Linked DNA regions of Homo sapiens: regions 1 and 3 are each linked to region 2. Evidence: fine-mapped expression QTL. A gene starts in region 2. Each other region holds a variant in brackets. All regions are shown on one strand. Distances are from middle to middle.

The links. PIP is the estimated chance that this variant, and not a neighbour inherited with it, causes the effect. A credible set is the group of variants that fine-mapping cannot tell apart.
Region 1: its variant is the best candidate, but not a certain one, in a credible set for the expression of SAMD9L in Th17 cells (Schmiedel 2018, PIP 0.56).
Region 3: its variant is the best candidate, but not a certain one, in a credible set for the expression of SAMD9L in skeletal muscle (GTEx, PIP 0.57).

The regions. Positions count from the first base shown.
Region 1 is chr7:93,258,789-93,265,245 of GRCh38, forward strand. VPS50 (VPS50 subunit of EARP/GARPII complex) reads left to right here. Exons shown (of 28, transcript NM_017667.4): 9 at 762-844. Among named protein-coding and RNA genes, the nearest start is that of VPS50, 30 kb to the left of the region's middle. RefSeq lists an enhancer at 2,241-2,742 and a silencer at 2,587-2,789. The variant CA/C (reference allele first, on the strand shown) is at 2,889.
Region 2 is chr7:93,145,658-93,152,114 of GRCh38, forward strand. SAMD9L (sterile alpha motif domain containing 9 like) reads right to left here and starts at 2,728. Exons shown (of 5, transcript NM_152703.5): 1 at 2,537-2,728; 2 at 1,226-1,489; 3 at 1-383. RefSeq lists an enhancer at 1,928-2,027.
Region 3 is chr7:93,311,394-93,317,850 of GRCh38, forward strand. All of the region lies in intron 20 of VPS50 (VPS50 subunit of EARP/GARPII complex), which reads left to right. Among named protein-coding and RNA genes, the nearest start is that of VPS50, 82 kb to the left of the region's middle. The variant C/A (reference allele first, on the strand shown) is at 3,427.

The sequences.
Region 1 (6,457 bases), 110 kb after region 2:
GCATTCTTAGCATTTTCTGTCTACTTCTGTCATAAGGTTCACCAAAGCATAATGTAATATGTGTGTCTCCTCATAATACTTGAGCTCCTTGGGGTAGGTACTTTGTCATTATCAGCATCACCAGTGGTTTGAATTGCATCTGTTGAATTTAGAATTGAGCATAGGGAAAAGTTTTTGTGGTTTTCTGTATAATTGTTTTATTACTTCTCAACTATTACTGCTAACTAGGGTTTCAGAAACCCATATGAAAAATTCATTGGGCATTAAATTACTGTTAGGTGATAAAAATACTCTGAGTTTATTAATTAGTGTTTTTTTTCTAAATTTATTTCTTTAGAACTATTTATTGATTTCTTGGTGGTAAATTGTTGACTATCAATTACAAATAGAATGCATACTATTTTGAAACATTTTATGTAGGCAGTACTGAAAGAAGATATGTTAACAGTTAAAGAAAACCTTTCCTGTGAAGCAGCTAATGATTTAATGTAGGATTTATCCATAAGTCATGGAAATGGTCTCAGGGGGCTGTTACTTTGAAGGAATAGAATATTTTAAATATTTCTTCTATGTATATATTTTAGGCCTGGAACTAGTTGCCTCTTATATTTTGTCACTTATCTATCATTGATATTCTAAGAGGAATTAAAGTTTTTTGATTCTGTAACTTTTGGTTAGAATATGAACAGAGATTTTTTTTTATCAGGGGCTTTAAGAAAAAATGTTTCTATTCCAATGACTCCTGTTGTTGTTACCTTAAGGAGGAAGATTATCCAGGAGCTATTCAGTTGTGCCTTGAATGTCAAAAAGCTGCCAGCACTTTTAAACATTACAGTTGTATAAGGTAAGGTCATGTAAATGTTTTAAAGCAGATTCTGTTGTCAGCTTCTTATGTAGCAGCTGTGTAAAAATGTTAATAAACATTGAAAATTAGTATAAAGTGTTGTGTTCTAGTTTAACATTCATATTTATATATGGGCAGTACAATAAAATTATAAATAATAGGCTTTAAGGTGTGAAAGATCAGATACTTTTCATTCCTGCTTTTTCTTGTCACCTCATTGAAACTCATTTTTCATATTTTTTCCAATCCAACTGATTCTATTTTTATAGAGTTGTAGACAAGAATAAATTATCTGTTCATATCTCCAATGCATCTCTTGGGAATTCTTCCTTAACTTTGCCCAGCTTATAAATATTGAGGATATTATTGCAGCTTGTTTTGGAGATCCAGATGGTTCAAGTGTTTGGCTCATCATGATAAAAAGTCTTTTGGAAAATTTAAGTATGGTTTCAATTTATATAATAATAATGTTTGTAATAGTTAAGTGATTATGTATTCAATGTGTTATGTCTTTTGTTTATTATTAAATATACAACAGAAAAATAGCCACTGCATATTTTGCTATTATCTCTAACTTTATTAATAGCATTTTGGTTTGCTTAAAATGAAGGATTTGCATTGCTTGTGACAGTCTTGGGGAAGCTCTAATCCCTAGGTGTAATTTCCAACATTCCTCTAGAGCCATCACAAATAAATGTACAATCTAAGTAAAATAGTGTGCTTGCCAAACAAATCTAGTTTCGAATTAAATTCATACCCATCCCAGATTGCATCCCCTTTGTCTCTCCTATATGGAAATTCTGACATTCAGTGAGCATGACTCACTGTTGTTGTAGATGTTGATTGCTAGTACCTGAAAACTAAAAGAATTATAATAGAGCAAAACATTAATATAAGTTTGAATTAATTTTTAAAAAATTATCTCATATTACAAGTCTTTGCTGGTTATAGGCTAAGGGCTAGATATTTTCCTCCCAGAAATGCTGTTTAAGTCTCTATGGTTTTTTTTTTTCTTTAAAATGTGCAGATTGAAGTTACATGTTTTTTTGTTTGTTTGTTTGTTTGTTTGTTTTTTATTTTAAAGATGGAGTCTCACTCTGTCGCCCAGGCTGGAGTGCAGTGGCGTGATCTTGGCTCACTGCAACCTCTGCCTCCTGGGTTCAAGCGATTCTCCTGCCTCATTCTCCAGAATAGCTGGGATTACAGGTGCACGCCACCATGCGCGGCTAATTTTTGTATTTTTAGTAGAGATGGGGTTTTGCCATGTCAGCCAGGCTGGTCTCTAACTCCACCGCGCCCAGCTTGAAGTTAACACATTTTTTATTTGGTTAGGATATAAATTGAGTAGTACCAGTGATACTTTCATTTTGTCCATTTTGAGAGTGATTAACTGTCATTAGTAGAAACTTGACGATGTCATTTACACTTATTAGGTTAAATAAATAGAGAATTAGTTTTAGTGTGTTGAATGTATTTAGAGATTTCCAACAAGCCATTCTGGGTCCTGAAAAAGCAAATCCATTTGAACCAAAGCATCCATTTAGTTCATTTTGTAGTGATAAATCTGTTATATAGTAACAGCTTATTGGGTGAAAATAATTCAGGCAGTTTACAGAGTGTTTATGCCAGGTACTTTGCTTTGAAATTGTCAGTATGGTGATAAACCACATACAGTGTAATCAGTATAATCCTTGGTTTCATAAAGAACATAATCTATCAAGAAGGACTTATATTAAAGTAGGCACCCATAAAATTAGGCTGTAGGCCGGGCGCGGTGGCTCACGCTTGTAATCCCAGCACATTGGGAGGCCGAGGCGGGCGGATCACGAGGTCAGGAGATCGAGACCATCCTGGCTAACACGGTGAAACCCCGTCTCTACTAAAAATACAAAAAAATTAGCCGGGCCTGGTGGCGGGCGCCTGTAGTCCCAGCTACTCGGGAGGCTGAGGCAGGAGAATGGCGTGAACCTGGGAGGCAGAGCTTGCAGTGAGCCGAGATTGCGCCACTGCACTCCCACCTGGGCCACAGAGCGAGACTCCGTCT[CA/C]AAAAAAAAAAAAAAAAAAAAAGAAATTAGGCTGTAGAGAGAAGGAAGTTGTGCATACAGTGGAAGCATTCGGATCTAACTCTCCTTCCGGGATCAAGACTAAGGAGGACCTGAACGAGGAGCAGGAAGACTTGAGGTAGGCCAGGATATGAGAGTTGTGAATAGGAAACTGTCTACACCAGAAATGAAATCTTTGTTGCGGAGTTACCAAGCAAAATGAAGACTGAAAATATGTATCTATTGGATTTATAGCAACAAAGAAGTCATAGTTGACCTTTTGGGGACAGATTTGGTGGGAGTTGGTTGAACTATCAAGTGTAAGGTGAGGAAATTTTGTGATGAGGACAGATGCAGAATTAAGAAGAGGAAACCTCAATATTGGAAAATTGGTAGGAGAGAGTGAGAAGCTGAAAATAAAATAGCATAATAATATACTAAGGCTTTGCAGGGATTATAGCAGAGATTGACTTTGAAAAGGTCACTGTCTGTTATAATAGGAAAGAATGAGCGTGGAATTTGGTGGCAGGAAATTGAGGGAGCAGGTGATGTGTTGAAACTTTTATATAATTAAAAATCTATTTTAGCTATGCTAAAGTAAATGTCTTACATGATGAGTGTTAACTGTAAAAAATGTCTTTGAAAGAAATTCTTATTTGGGCTTTTAAAAATTGATATCAAGTGGCTTCTCAGCACTTTTTAAATTAATGGATATACTGATATGTGGAGGAGGTGTGGCTACAGTTATCGAATGAGGTTAAAAGGTTGAAATGGAAAAGATTTAAATTAATAGTTATTTTAGGTAATACAGTGTATAAGAAGCATGCTATGTTTAGATATGTGAGTCATGCATGTGATAATAAGAAGAATTGGTCTTATTCTCTGCAAATAGGTAAAAGTACATCACACATACATTCAGATATCCCAAGAAATTCTTTGTAATGGGGTTTTACTTTAGGTATCTTAGGAAAACTTAGATAAAGTTGTGTTTTTAACTTGGTGATTTAGTGACAGTGTCAGGGTGACTCAGAGAGCAGGGCTATCAGTTGGAGCTGTCTGGTGGTGATGATAGCCCCTCCGCTAGCATTTCTTCTCCACCCCATACCAGCACAGTATCCTTTGCCAGCCACCATTCACCTGCCTAACACCATTCCCTCTTTCACTTCACCTGTTGTTTCACTCTTTTGTTTATATGGGAGAACATAATAAGTTTGTTCACTTCTTTTGTAGATGATATAATGTGGGATATAAGGATAGAGTTAGTTGACATGTGGGTCACGTTGAGTCCACAAAGATAAAAGACATTGTTATTCTAACATTCTTTTATTTTTGTCTTTATAAATTAGATACACCTCTTTTTTTTTGTTTTTTTTTCTGTGCGTTTTTCTTTCTTTTGCTCTGTTTCCTCTGGTCTTCCCAGTACAGTGTTGCACCTGTTCTTGAGCTCTCTAGTTGGGCCTACTCATACAGGATTCATCCACACTTTTAAAATGTATTTAATTGACTTGGGCTTGTGGAACTTAGCCGAAGGCAAGATTTAATCTTTGCTTGGACATGAGTGAATTAGAGTGAATAAGCATTTTACATTCTAGTAATCTTAGGAGCAGTAATTAACTTCCAACTGAATTTATATATTCTCAATTTTAAAAACATTTATATCTATTCTAATTCTTGTTGATAACTAGAGAATCATAAATGTTTTCCTTTTAGAAATGATTTTTGAGAGAATCACCCCATGATATAGAATATTTCTGAATTCTGATGTGATTTTTAAAAAATATTTTAAGCAAGTTTATATGCACAGTATACCTACTTGTCTACTTGTTAATTTTTTCTTGGCAGATTATGTGTTCCTCTTTTCTTTCCTAGTCACATCACTCCTTTATTGGAAATAAGGTTTTTGTTTTTGGTAGAGTGCAAACTCTCTAAGGAGAGTTACTTGGAATAGCTGAGATGGAAAAACTTAGGACTGACTCTTATGATTCTGAAAATAGGAAAAACAATTTACATATTTGCTTCTGCATAAAGAAATACTGACTCTATATCTTGTAAGTCTCAGATTATATGACTAGGTAGTTTAATACATGAAATGCCAAGTATAATCGGCTCTCTGTATCCATGTGTTCTGTGTCTCTGGATTCAACCAGCTGAAAATGGAAAATATTTGGAAAGAAAAAACAGCAACAAAAATAACAATACAACACAAAAATCACAATGCAATCATAAAAATAATAAAAATAAAAAATAATACAATATAACTGTTTACATACATTTGCATTGTATTAGACATTATAAGTAATCAAGATGATTTAAAGTATAAGGAGGATGCGGATAGGTTATATGCAAGTACTGTGCCATTTTATATAAAGAACTTGAGTATCCGTGGATTTTGATGTCTATGGAGGGTCTCAGAATAATCCCCCACATAGACTGAGGAATGATTATCATATAATGATGCACCCAGTTGGTTGAAAAATGAAACAGAAGTGGCACTTCCTCTGCACCTGTCTTCCTTAAGATGTGCCATGTTTCAGCATCTTTAATAAAAGATACAGTAATCCCAGTTTTGTTCACTTTTATAACTGAGAGAACATTTTTACATTGTTTGATATTTCCTGAGTTGATTGACAGAGAGTCATATAGTTGGGATTTATTGAGAATAAGAATCAGAATGTGTTTATGCTAAAGTGCATCTATGAATGAAGTACTTAATTTCTTTTTCACTTGAAATTTGTCTCAATTTGTTTCAAGGAAAGTTAATTTTAAAAGTCAAAACTGCTTTATTATTGTATTTCATTTGAAAGAAACTACTTGAGGGAGCCTGATAGCTTTTGTATTATGCACTGTAAGGTTTGCATACTGCTGAACTAGTTTCTTGAGTACTGTACTTTAACATAAACAGATGCATTAAATGTCTCATAATCTTTCAAGAATTCCTTCATTTTTTCTCAGAATATGATCTTGGTAGTTTAGTGAAAATTGTAGGTTGTAGAATGTCTTTACGTCATATGGCAAATGAACACAGCTGACAAATATAGCAATACTGGGAACTTTTCTTCCCCTATTGCATTAATTTCTTTATAGCAAGGTGTGCCTGCTTTCTTCCTCTAAGGTCAGGGACATAAGGAGCCCTGCCTTGAGTAATGTTTGAACATTGATTGTTTCTGCTAGGTTGCCAGGCCTTCTAGCTTGATCCATTGTCTAGATCCTGAGTGCTTGTTGGTTGGTCAGCTTGGACCAAGTTTTGATAACACCTGCACTCCTCATCTTCTATTTTAACTTGTTTTTCTCTGCCTCCCTCTGCCATGCTGTGCTGTTTTAAATAATGTAAAATAATAGTTTCACATGACAAAAATCCTAATAAACAAGAGGGTTTTAAATAAAAAGCAAACAGTTTTCTTTCTGCCCCATTCACCCGTCACTTTCCTAATCCCTGGAGTAAACCACTTTTACAGCTTACTAATTTTTTAAAAATAATTAAAAAATATATACATAATATATATATACAGACACATATACACACATATATCTCTTTCCTGTTTTAACTTTTATCAGTTCACCAACTAAAAGT
Region 2 (6,457 bases):
ATGTTTATGAAACAGATTTTCCCCCCAACTTTCTACTATGAAAATGTTTGAACATACAGAAAATTTGAAAGAATAGTGAAAAGAATACCCTTCTCCTAGGTAGCATCTCTTTGTGTACTTACTTCTAAGAAAATAAATAAAACTCAAAAAGTATGTGACAGGTACACTTTATCTCTCTTCCAGCATTCCACATTCAATGTGGAGCAAATCCTATGGGGTGTATCTTCAAAATATACCCAGCATTTGACTACCTGACACCACTACCACCTGGTCCAAGCCTTCCTCATCTCTTTCCTGGATTATAGGAATAGCTTCCTTGCCAGGTTCCCTCTTGCTGTTATTGATCTCTTCAGGGACTTCTCAAAAAAGCAGCCGGAATGACCCTGTTAAAATGTAAACATCATATCAATGTTGTGTCCAACCCTGTCTGTGGCTTTCCATCTGACAAGGCCTCACACAATCTGGTACCCTGCTAATCCTCTGATATTAGGTCTTTTATTTTTCCCTCTAAATCTGGCCCAGTCCCCTGACCTCCTCGTTGCTTCCTGAAGGAAGCACCTGCCCCTGTTTCCAGCCACTACACTTGTTTTCCCTTCCTGGAATGTCCCTGGATACCAGCAGGGCTCACTCTTTCACTTTGTTGAGATCTTTTGTCAAATGTCACCTTCTCAGCAAGGCACTGTTTGGCCAGCCTACTGAAAACTTTATCCCACCTCCCAACATTTCCTATCCCTCTTCTGGCTTCATTTTTTATCTACTTAGGACTTACAAGCAGCAAATATTTTATATATTTTAACCTATTTATTTTCTGTCCAACCCATTATTCTATGCACTCCATAAGGACAAATTTCTTTACATTTTGTTCATTATCTGGCATTGCCTAGCACATAATAGCTTCTTAACAAAAATCTGTTAAATGAGTAACACATTTTCTTAGAGTAGTTAAAAGTAATGAATATTTGAAAGGCCTTGAGCTACCAGTGTCTGTGGGTCAAAGGACTTCCTCATTTTCCTAGGGAAATTATTTCGCTTGGCTGGAACTCCAGGTAGAAATCTGGGGAAATCTCTTTACTGTGCTACCCGTTAGGCCAGAATGAACTCCAGCTTCTATCATCTGGTCACAAATAATGAAAAGGAAGTTTTTTTTTCAAAAGGAAAGCAAAACAAATGAATATATTTTCTCCTGCAGTTTTTGTAGATACCCTAGTTACAGACTACACCTTACCAACTTTCTGCTGTGTCACTCACAGTCACCGAATGAGGCCATTTCTCACACAGCGTTTTCCCTGGAGGAGGTCCCTTTTGACTCTAGGTCCCCAGTGTCTTAAGACCTTTGCTGTTTTCACCCTCTGCCTTTGCTGGGAAGCTGCTCTTCTGGCAAGGGGCTTACACTTTCCACAGACACAGTCTGCTCGGGTGAGATGCAATACCTTCTTTTAGCTGGTGTCCTCTTTCAGAAATTTAACCAGCCAGTCTCTCTCTGGAAATGCTAAAGATGGAAAAAACAGACTCCAGATTTTTTCTTTCGTTTTAGCCAGTACAATTTTAAGAGCATCTGGATGTATGCTGTTGGAACTAAGTAACAATCAAAATGACCATGATTAGTGTGGACAAATTTTGTGATTGCCTTGACTTAAGTCTTGGCTTTCTAGGGGCCCTCAGTGTCCTGTTTTGAAACAATTGTGAAGACAAATATTATCTTTAGCAACGTTGGTTATTGACAAAGGAGTTGCAGGTTGGCATCCTCAACACTTCAGTTTTCTCTCTTTGATGCTCAGCAAGAATTTCCAAGTCAGCAAACTCTCAGGGACAAGCCCACCCCATCTTTGAGAGACCCTCAGCAACACCGCTGATATCCATGCCCTAGGGAGGTGTTCTGCTCTGCAGGATTCTTAGAACTGATGTAGGGGAAACACACTTCAGAATCTGGCTGTAGCCCAGGAGAGCTACCCACACCCTCCTTGCATAGTCTGGCAGACAGAAGCCACACAAGCAAGTTAGTTTCGTTTTCCTGAAGAACACTTTGCATTTTTTTTCTTAGTTTTCAACCAGATTGCTGGATAAGATGTATGTGAATGAAATACTTTAATAGAATAATATTTAGCCTCTGCAGAGTATTAACTTTGATAAAATGTAAAAGTTTTAATAACATCTTACGTTATGAAGACAGAATTTTGTGTAATTACACAAGATCACACGTTCCTTTAGAATCTTCAGTGCTTAAATTCCTGACCCTGTTTGCATCGTTTCTCTATCCTCTTTTCCAAAGCCTGCCTGCCACAATCAGAAACCCTCCCACTATCCTAATTACACTTAATGGTATGTTTCTTTTTAGAAGAGCACTTACAAAGTTATTATCAGTTAAATATACTGACATGTATTTAATCCATTGATTTTTCTAATTACTCTAGTATTTTTATAAGTAATCGTTTATGTACAAACATATATTTATATAAAAAGTACAGCTGAAGTTTTAAAAAATAGCTGTCGCCTCAAAAGCATAACAAATAAAGGTTTAATGATTCAGTTTACTTACCAGGATTTTCCTGAAAATGTCATCGTTTTATATCAGAAACTTGAAACAGGCCATTTGAACTTTTGCTGTCTCATTCCTCTTCTGATGGCTAGGAGACATGAAGTGTAAGGATCCTTTTTTAAAAACTGAGGCATTAAATTGTGAAGTCTTCTGTTCTCCCAGTACTCTGACTTTCTGAGGGTGTGTCAGAGTGCCAGTTGAGAAGCAGGAGGAAGTTGAAGTATAGACAGTTTCAGTTTTGCTTTAGAACATTCTTTTTTCTTGAGTTTAGAAGGATCTGAAATGTTTTTTAATCAATAACATTACCAAAAATATCAATAAATTTGAATCACTGCTTAGAAACTGTTTACCAGGCAGATTTTTAAGTTATAAGAGTTAAGGAATAAGGAAACAACAAACAAACAAACAAAAAAACCCAGTGACCCAAAAAACTACCTACAGGACAAAGAGAATGGAAATACCAGGGAGAAAATTAATATGTCAGTGCAATCTAAGTTCCTGTTACTGGTTGAATTGTGTCCCCCAAACATTCATATGTTAAAGTCCTAATCCTCACTCCCTCCAAATGTAACTGTATTTGGAGATAAGGTCTTTCAGGAGATAATTAAGTTAAAATGAGGTCATTAGAGTGTCTGTAATTGAATCTGACTGTGTCCTTGTAAGAAGACGAGATTGGGACACAGACACATACAGAGGGAAGACCATGTGAAGACACAAAGAAAAGATGGCCATCTACAAGCCAAGGAGAGAGACATCAGAAGAAACCAACCCTGATAATGTCAGAGACATTCGAACCAGAGTGACTCCATTTTGAATGAGGGCTACGAAAATGAGGCTGAGACTTGCTGGGCTGCCTTCTCAGAAAGGTAGGCATTCCTAGCCTCTAGATGTTTATGATTAAGGGAGCAAATTAATAATATTTACTAAGCAGACCGTGACTTGGGAGTGTCCAGATATCCCAATATCTGGAGAACAGAGGCATTCTTAATTTTGCTTTAAAGAAAATAATATTGATTCTTGCAAAATACACTAATTAAGAAAATTAATTCTTTATCAGAAACCCTTGTAGCAAAACACATCTCTCCATATATACAAGCATTGTACCTAGGGTGGATGTGTTCCTCCTCTTACTTTCGGGAACGTCCTACTCTGTCTGTGGAGTAGCTGTCCTTTTACCACTGTACTTTCTTAATAAACTTGCTTTTACTTTGCACTGTGGACTCGCCCTGAATTCTTTCTTGCATGAGCTCCAAGAACCCTCTCTAGGGGTCTGGATTGGAACCCTGGTCCTGTAACATTTCTGGCAACCATGAGGGACCGATACTGAAGAACCTCCCCACCAACCCAAAGGAAATGGACTATAGCACTGATTGGATGACTTTGGGTAAGTGGTGGGGTACCCGGGTAAAGAATGGGATTGGGTTAGAGGCCCAACTTAGGGGAATTAGAGTCTCTCCGAAGACAGGGTGAATTAGAGACCCCTGTTAATAAAAGGCAAAGATGCTTGACTGACCTCGGATTAGAGGACCAACTTAAAAGGTTTAGAGTTCCTTCTAAGATTTAGGGGGTTAGAGGGCCCTCTCAGTAAAGTCCCTCTCTGCTAAAAAAGGGTTTGGCACTGCAGGCTATGCACTTTGTATTAATCTGCCTTGTCCTCCTTGCTGCATAAATCAATTTCTTGGTTGCTGTCTGTGTTTCACTGTCATTTTCGGGAGACTTTATCTAAATGGTCTTAGGGATTTTAACTTACTCTTTTCCTATGTGCCTCCTGATTTCCATGTGTCTGCTCTTGAAACATTGGGAACAAAAAGCATTGACGGCTCCGTCTTTAAAATTGCTGATTGAGATTTGGTATTCAACAGCTATGAGCAATAAAATTAGATTATGTTTTGTTGCTGCTATGCCGACTAGGTGTGATCGAGAAGCACTAGGATGGAAATCAGGGGACTCTGATGTTTTGTTTCACTTTGCACACTAAAAACACTTCTTTCCTTTCTTGCATTCAGGCAAACCGGCTTTGCTTGTTCAATCCACACTGTCTCTATTGCCCAGAACCTGCTTGCTCTGGTCATTCCCATCTAAATCCTCTTCATTTCCCTTGCCTTATTCAACATTTTTGTCAAAGTCCATGTTGTGGTTTATCTAAGATTCATGACTCAGCTCACTTATGTTATTTGGATAATGTGAATCATGTTTGATGAGAGGAAAAGAGGAAAAAAAGCTAGACATACTAGATGATCCTTTAATGCAAGCAACCTTGGTTCAGCAGGCAGTTTTGGGTGGAGCAGAACCTCCTTCTGTCAGCTCTGAAGGTTCAGATGTGTCTGTCCTTTCTCCCTCTATCCCCTTGGAGAACCCTTTGTCCCATCCTCCTTACCCATCTAGCCCCACTCTATACCCACCACTCCCTGAGGAACTTAGCCTGGTGAGTACTACCCCTAGTGGAGCCTCCTATCAACCTCCAAAGGGAAACCTTTGTCCACTTAGAGAGGTGGCAAATGGGGAAGAAGGCACTGTGAGAGTACATGTTCCCTTTTTTTTTTTTTGTCTGATTTGACTCTATGTAAAGAGAAGTTTGGTGATTTCTCTGAAGACCCAGGAAGATTCATAGATTAATTTGAGAAATTAATTCTGACCTATAGTTAACTTGGCAGGATCTCCATGTTTTGTTGTCTCTGTGTTGTACAGTGGAAGAGAAACAATGCATTTTGGGGACAGCTAGGGCTCATGCAGATGAGGCATTGGCTAACAACCCAAACCATAATACATATCAGGCAGGAGGTAGAGCAGTTCCAGATCAAGATCCAGAGTGGAACTATCAAAGGGGCAGTGACAACTTGGGGAGGAGCGATCATATGGTCACTTGTTTGTTGGAAGGGATGAAGAAATGTATGAAAAAGCCTGTTAACTATGAAAAATTAAGGAAGTTTCTCAGGACAAAGATGAGAATCCAGCTTTGTTTCAAGGGCATTTAGTTGAGGCAATTAGGAAATATACTAACACTGATCCTGCTTCAAGGGAAGGACAAACCCTTTTGAGAGTACATTTTATAACCCAGTCTGCCCTTGATATCCATAGGAAACTAGAAAAAGCAGCTATGGGTCCCCAAACTCCCATATGGAACAGCTTTTGGATATGGTATTTTTAGTTTTCAATAACAGGGACAAAGCAGAGGAAGCAGAAGGAGTAAGAAGGACCTCCCACAAGGTGCAGCTCTTGGCTGCAGACTTAAGCTTACCTCCCACATGGGGTTGCCCTCCTGGTTCTTGGCCTGAACAAGGGAAGCTGAAAGGTGGGAAGTCAGAGTCACCTTGCCTTGGGCATTAATCAGTGTGCACACTGTAAGAAAACTGGCCTTTGGAAGAGGGATTGCCCAGTGCTCTGAAGGGAGCCATTGGCACCTGAAGCAATGATGGCTGAAATAGCCAGGCAAACCCAAGAGTGACGGGGTCTGAGACTTTCCAGCACAGCTCCCATCAGACAACTAGTTATTATCTCTGGAGAAGCCTTGGGTAACCCTTGACGTGGCAGGTAAGAACATTAACTTCCTTCTGGGTTGCTTATTCTGTTTTGACCCATTATAATGGGTCTCTGTCACCCCAGAACTGTATGGCCATGGGGATAGATGACAAGCCCATAGATGCCATTTTACCTATCCTTTAAGCTGCTCTTCAGGGACCTTGCTTTTCTCCTGAATGCCCCACCCCTTGTTGGGAAGGGATTTGTTAACTCAGCTGCGAAGAGTACTATCTTTTGGAAATCATAAGGCAGACTGAAATTGCTCCTTCTTCTTTCCTGTGAGTAAATATCAGCCTTTGTTGCTAAACATCCTGATATAACACTTAAAGTATGCCATATGTTGAATCCAGCTACCTATTTGCCTGAACCCACAAGTATCGTACATTATTCTTGTATATAAGT
Region 3 (6,457 bases), 170 kb after region 2:
GTTATCATATGTCAATGCTTCTCATTTTAAATGTTCCAAATACTATAATACTAATAGTAATGCCAGTTTTTCTTTTTCAGTTACCTGTTTATTAAGTCTTTGTATCTTACAATTTTTCTAAAATATTTCAGTTAATTGAAATGCGATGAAAAATTCTCTAGGTAGGTTAGAGGTATGTGTAAGATAAGTTAGTACCAGTTTCACATTTATACAATATTTTTGTACTTAGTTGTTTCATAGGTCTTTACCATCTTCTGTCAGGCAGAGTGAATAGTGACTTTCTGGCATTTTCAGACACAAGGGATTTACAAGCTAAATGTTCAGATTATAGGAAATGTTGTTTTTGTAACAGATAAGACCTTTATTGATGATTTTGTAGAAGGCAAACAATATGAAGAAATGATATTTTAAATATTCAGGTTTTAGGATGATGTGGATTTTTTTAAAATCAGTATTTCAACATCTTGTATGCTTTTAGCCTTTGTATCTCACAAATAAGTCTATGTATTTGACAAATAAGTTATAGAGATGTCTTCTCCTATTAAACTTCATTGTTCCAAGCAGGAATTTTAGTGGTTTTCCATAAAAATCTCTATATTCTATCTATGGAGATGGTATTTACCTATTGCCTAGTTTGATTAACCTTAGCTCTGTTGAAATAGTCTGTGTTCTTTAAGATAATTCTTAAATTTAATTAATGAATAGGATAAAATGTACAGAATGCTTTTTAGGAGTCACGGTTTCTCTAGAAAGAGCAAAAAATATTACTGAATTGAGAAGAACAGAAAGGTATACCTTTTCATGATGCTCAGAAAAAAGGATAGATTCTAAAAAGCTATTCTGTGGCTAATTATTGCCAGGGAGCTAAGCTTTTCTTCTTCTTCCAAGAGAACTGACTGAACATAGTGTCAGAAATAACTCTCGAGAATTTGTAGAATCAGAATTGGGAGAGTGCTGAGTGGTCATTGGTGTAAGTTGCCATGAAGTCGGTTGTCTTTCTGTAATGTCTCTCATACATGGTAGCTGTCTAGCTTCTGTTTCATGACTCCCAGTCATTGGAAACACAGTGGTTTGCAAGACTACTCATTCTATCATTAGACTGATCTCATTAGTAGAAGTATCTTCCCTAAGGTAAACCAAAACCTGTCTCTCTGTGATTCTAGCCTTTGGTTTGTCCTTTTGGTCTAAGAGTTATGCCCTTAGAAGCAAGAAGAATAAGTTCGTGCATTTTTTTCTTCTATTTCTTCTATTCTTCTATTTCTTCTATCTTCTATTTCTTCTATTCTTCTATTTCCTCTATCTTCCATTTCTTCTAATTCTTCTATTCTTCCATGTGATCACTTTTCAGATATGTGGTGGTAGTTATCGTGCTTCCTTTTCTCATACCGACCACCCCACAATCCATTTTTCAGGCTCCATGGGCTCAGTTCCTTTATCTTGTCCTCACTGATAGAAATTCAGACCTTTCAGAATCATTGTCATCCTCCTTAGCCTTCTAGACTCAGCAGTTTTCAATGTCCGAACACATTCCTTGAGATGTAGTCAGCTTTTGCTAGATTATGTTGAAGTAACAAGCAACTGTTGGTGCATCAAGACGTTCAACCACAAAGTTTTATTTTTCACTCGTGATACGCATTGTCTCCTGTTTATATGCAGCTCTGCTCCGTGTGTCTCTTCATTCTAAGATGTAGGTTGAAAGAATAGTACCAACCAATCTGGAACATGGGGAGAAGAGCAAAAGCAAACTATGTTATGACTCCTGAAGCTTCTGCTTCCATGTGTCACCCTTGACTTCCTCTGACATGTCATGGCCAAAGCAAGTCAGGCTTGGCAAAGGGAGGGGAGAAGTATGCTTCTGCCGCAGGAAGCACTGCAAGTCAAGGGAAGTGGGCAGGGCTGTATATTGCTCTTACAGGGAATTGGGAAAAATAATATAATCAAACACATCTAAGCAGTTGTTTATATTTTTTACCTTACCTAGTTCAAAAGGGGCTGGAGGTAGTCATGTTGCTGTTTACGCTGAAGGCATATTTTCATTATAATCAAATAAAATAAAATACAAGGCTAAGACAAAGTTGAAGAGTGGGCACATCATGCTTTATCATATCATATTTAATGCAGACATCAAATACAATGCTTAACTTCTTGGTAGGCATAAGGGAATTGAAGAAACAATATATACCACTATCCTCGTTATCTGAGAAAAAGATACAGGCCTTTATAATAATGGTAGAAATATGTTCCTGGTGCTGAATTCAGATGTTAGTAACAACAAATTTTTGTATGAGGATTACTGATCAACATAGTGGGCCTTGCTTTTGAACAGTGGGTTTGTAGGAACTGAGAAAAGCCACATTCAAGACCCTTTAAAGTAAAGTAAAGTATGGCACAGTCCTGAATAAAGCCTTACTCTGTGAAGAGAATTTGACTATTGCAATTTCAGCTTTCTCCACTACCATATCTTTTACTGGACTTGCAATTAGGAAACAATGCCGAGTATGACAATTTAACTTTTATATCTTCTCATTTAGGACTGGGATTAGGTGCTGCCATTATCACCCCAGTTGGGATCCCCAGTAGACTTTTATGCCTATCATTTTCTCTCTCCCTGGGATGTTTTTATCTTCAGTTTTTAGATATATACAAAACAGAACTTTAAGGAAGCCACTGTCTCAGAGGCCTCTGACTAGCAAATGCACTATTCCATCCGCTGTTGTTATTGCATAGAAGTGCCTGAAGATTATAAACTGGCAGAGGTCATGCTTCTTCCTACAAAGGGAGAAGTACGGTTGTGTAAATAAGACAGATTAATTTTTGGTGCTTGAGAAGATGAAGGAACTAATTATTGAGTATTTGGGAAACCATATTAGAACATTAAAGGCATATTTAAAATGTCCTTTTCAAGTAGTATTTACTTGGCAGATAATTAGCAGAGCGTAAACAAAAGAGTGTTAATGGGGCTTCCTTACCCCAGGTGGTAACTAAATTTATTAGAAAGGCTCAGGGAGGCTTTGCACTAGTGGAGAGGACTGATCAGAACAGTTGCTTGTATTATATAAAGAGAAAATTCTGTCATCCTGATGGTTTCTTGCAGACAGTGAAAGAGAAATTTTAGGAAATGTGTCTCATCAGTGAAATAGCCTTGGTATTCACGGTTCTCTCTCCTGGAAGCAGCTTGTGAGCAGGTGTGATAGGTCTGAGGAGCAGGAGCTAGATTACCGAAGTCCATGCTTGTAAGAACTGCCGACAACAACAAAATTACCACTTTAGTAGCTAGAAAAAATATACCCTAGCACCCTAGCACATGCATCAGTATTTAAAATGAAACTAGGATATGTGCATCTAAGGGATATTTAGGTATAATGTGCCTGAGATGCAGCTTATGTGGTGGAGAGAACACAGGCATGGGAGACAAGAGATCCACTC[C/A]TTCATTAGGACATTCTTTTCATTGGGGGAAGGTCAAATACTAGATGACAGACTGCTGAAGTTTCTCAGCAGTTTAGTTTGCTGGCATATTCTTTATCATTGAGCATTTTAAATTGAAAGGTGATGCATAAAAATGGTTAAAAATTAAAATACCCCAAGGTATAAGCAGAGCCCCTGAGCTGCAAGTCTCCTTCCTCAGACAAAACGACTCAGTTTCTCCTGTTTTCTTCTGGAAACATTAGTGTTAGTACAAATATATTTAATACGTATATCTCCTCTCTCCTATTTTTTTTTGTTGTTGTTTTGTTTCAAAAATTGGATTACACTATTTATACTGTTTTTTATCTGGATTTTTTACTTAAAATATCTTAAGGTTACACTTAAAATATCTTAATGTATTACCTATCTTAGTATGTGTGGATTTCATTCTTTTTTCCTATTGTATAGATGTAATATTATAAGTGCCACAATTTATACATCTTCTACTTTTCAACATATAGGTTAAGTCATTTCATACTACAAACTGCCACAGCAAGTATCCTTGAAGAAATATCTTTGTGTATATACAGATAGAGCTATAGAACAAATTCCTATAAATACTTCCTCTCGCTGGATCAAAGAGTATATACATTTCCAGTTTTGATGGACATTCTCAATTTACCAATGAGGTTACTAACGAGCTTACTAAAAGAGTTCTGTTAAATTACTCATTCATTAGCAGTATTTGAGGGTAGCTCTTTTCTTAGTCTCAGCAACACTGTGTATCCTCCAGCTTTGGGTACTTGCTAGTCTGATAGGTTAAACATGGCATCTCATTCAAAAATGTATTTAATTATGAGTGAATTGAAGCATCTTTTCATATGCTTAAAAGACATTTCTATTTACTTGCGAACTACTTATTCATATCCACTGCTCATTTTTATATAATAAGGAAATTATAGGTTTTAATTTCAACATTAAGGAAATCAGTTCTTTTTTTGCCATGTATATTGCATTCATTAGTTTTAGTCCACCAGATTTTTTTTTTTTTTTTGAGTCACTACTTTGTTTCTGGCTAGCTGTTGGAGTTACAGTCATGAAGAAACCATAGTCTTTGTACTTTGTACTTAAGGAGTTCAACAAGGGAAATAAATACAAAATAAAAAAATTTACAGTGTGTTGTTATAAGCATAAATAAACAGAAAAGAGGCAAGAGAAAGAATGATGATTAATTTTCCTTTTTGGGTAGGAAGTGAAAGGACTGACTCACTATGGGGGCTGACACCCTAATTGAGTTTGAAAGATGAATAGGTTCTCATAGATGAAGTTGGTAAAGGCATTTTGGACAGAAAGAACATGTGCAAGACATGGTGTATTCAGAGACTCCAGTTGTCTAGTTTGCTGGAATGTAAGAAACATGACGGGGCCTGGAGGCAGAAGCAGAGGAGATGTGACGAGAAAGATGGGCAAGAACAGGATATGAGAAGGCCTCAAAGACTGTCCTATGCAGCTTGGACATAAGCTCCTTAAGGGATTTCTAACAGGGGAGAGACCCCAGCAGATTTGCTGTTTTTAAAAAAAGTGTAAATAAGGGATTGACTTTGGCTAAGGGGAAACTGGAGAAGGTCAAAGACTGGATGGCAGACTGTCGAAGTCTCCCAGGCAAGGGATGATGAGGACATAAGCCTGGATATGGATGGCAGTGGCCATTGTAATATAGAGAAGAAGATGGATTAGAGAGATTTTAGAAATACAACAGACAGAATTGGTGAATCAGTGATGAGCGATCACTCAGATTTTAGGTTTGTGTGATTAACCAGTTATAATGCCAGAAATGAAAAAGGGAAGATGAGAGGAAGACCAAGTTTTCCGAGCTGATGGTAGGGTAGACTTTGGACATATAGAGGTACCTCTGGGACATTTAAGTAGAAATAGTCTATAGGTAGTTACATAGATGGATGTGGAGGTCAGGAGAAAAAACATGATCAGGATACATAATTTGAGTCATTGTTTTAAAATGACTAGGAAGGACTAGGACTTCTGTCTGATTTTCTATGAACTCAAAAGGTTAGTGGATGAGTTTATCTTGGCAGAGGCTCTTAACAATTTGAGTTCATAGAAAACCAGACAGAAGCTCTACTATCCTTCCTACCCACTTAGTACACACAAAAACATGCAACACAAGATAGCTGAGTGGAAACCTAGGAAACAGCAGTGGATATGGATACACTGGAAGGGCAAACAGCAAGATCAGTCAGTGAAGAAGGTCATGAATCAACAGCAGAAAGGCAGGAGGAAAATTAGGAGGTGAAGCAGAGGTCTTGAAAACCAAGGCATGAGGGCCTATCAAGAAGAAAGAAGGACTGTGCTTTATTGCTTTATTCATCTTTTATGGTGATCTAGCCTTTGATTTTTAAATTTTGGCATGCGTCAGTATCACCTAGAGGGCTTGTTAAAACACAGATTGCTGGCCAGGTTTGGTGGCTCATACCTGTAATCCCAGCACTTTGGGAGGCCAAGACAGATGGATCACTTAAGGTCAGGAGTTCAAGAGCAGCCTGGCCAACATAGCAAAACCTTGTCTCTACTAAAAATACAAAAGTTAGCCAGATGTGGTGGGGCACTCCTGTAATCCCAGCTACTTGGGAGGCTGAGGCATGAGAACCCAGGAGGCAGAGGTTGCAGCAAGCCAAGGTTGCAGCAAGCTGAGATCGCACCACTGCATTCCAGCCTGGGTGACAGGGCAAGACTCTGTCTCAAATAAACAAACAAACAAAACACCGATTGCTGTCCCCCACTCCCAGAGTATCTGATTCAGTAGGTCTAGGGTATAACCTGAAAACGGGCACCTTTAACAAGTTTCCAGGTAATGTTGATGCAGCTTGTCTAGGGACCACACTTTGAGAACCATTGGTTCCTTTCTGTTATTTTCCTAATTGAAATGTAAAACAATGTGTATTTAACAGGAAAATTCTTGATTACATAACAGATAATTAAAATAGTAGCTTCTTTTGTTTTTTTGAATAAGTTGTTTTTAAAGTATCCTTGTTTC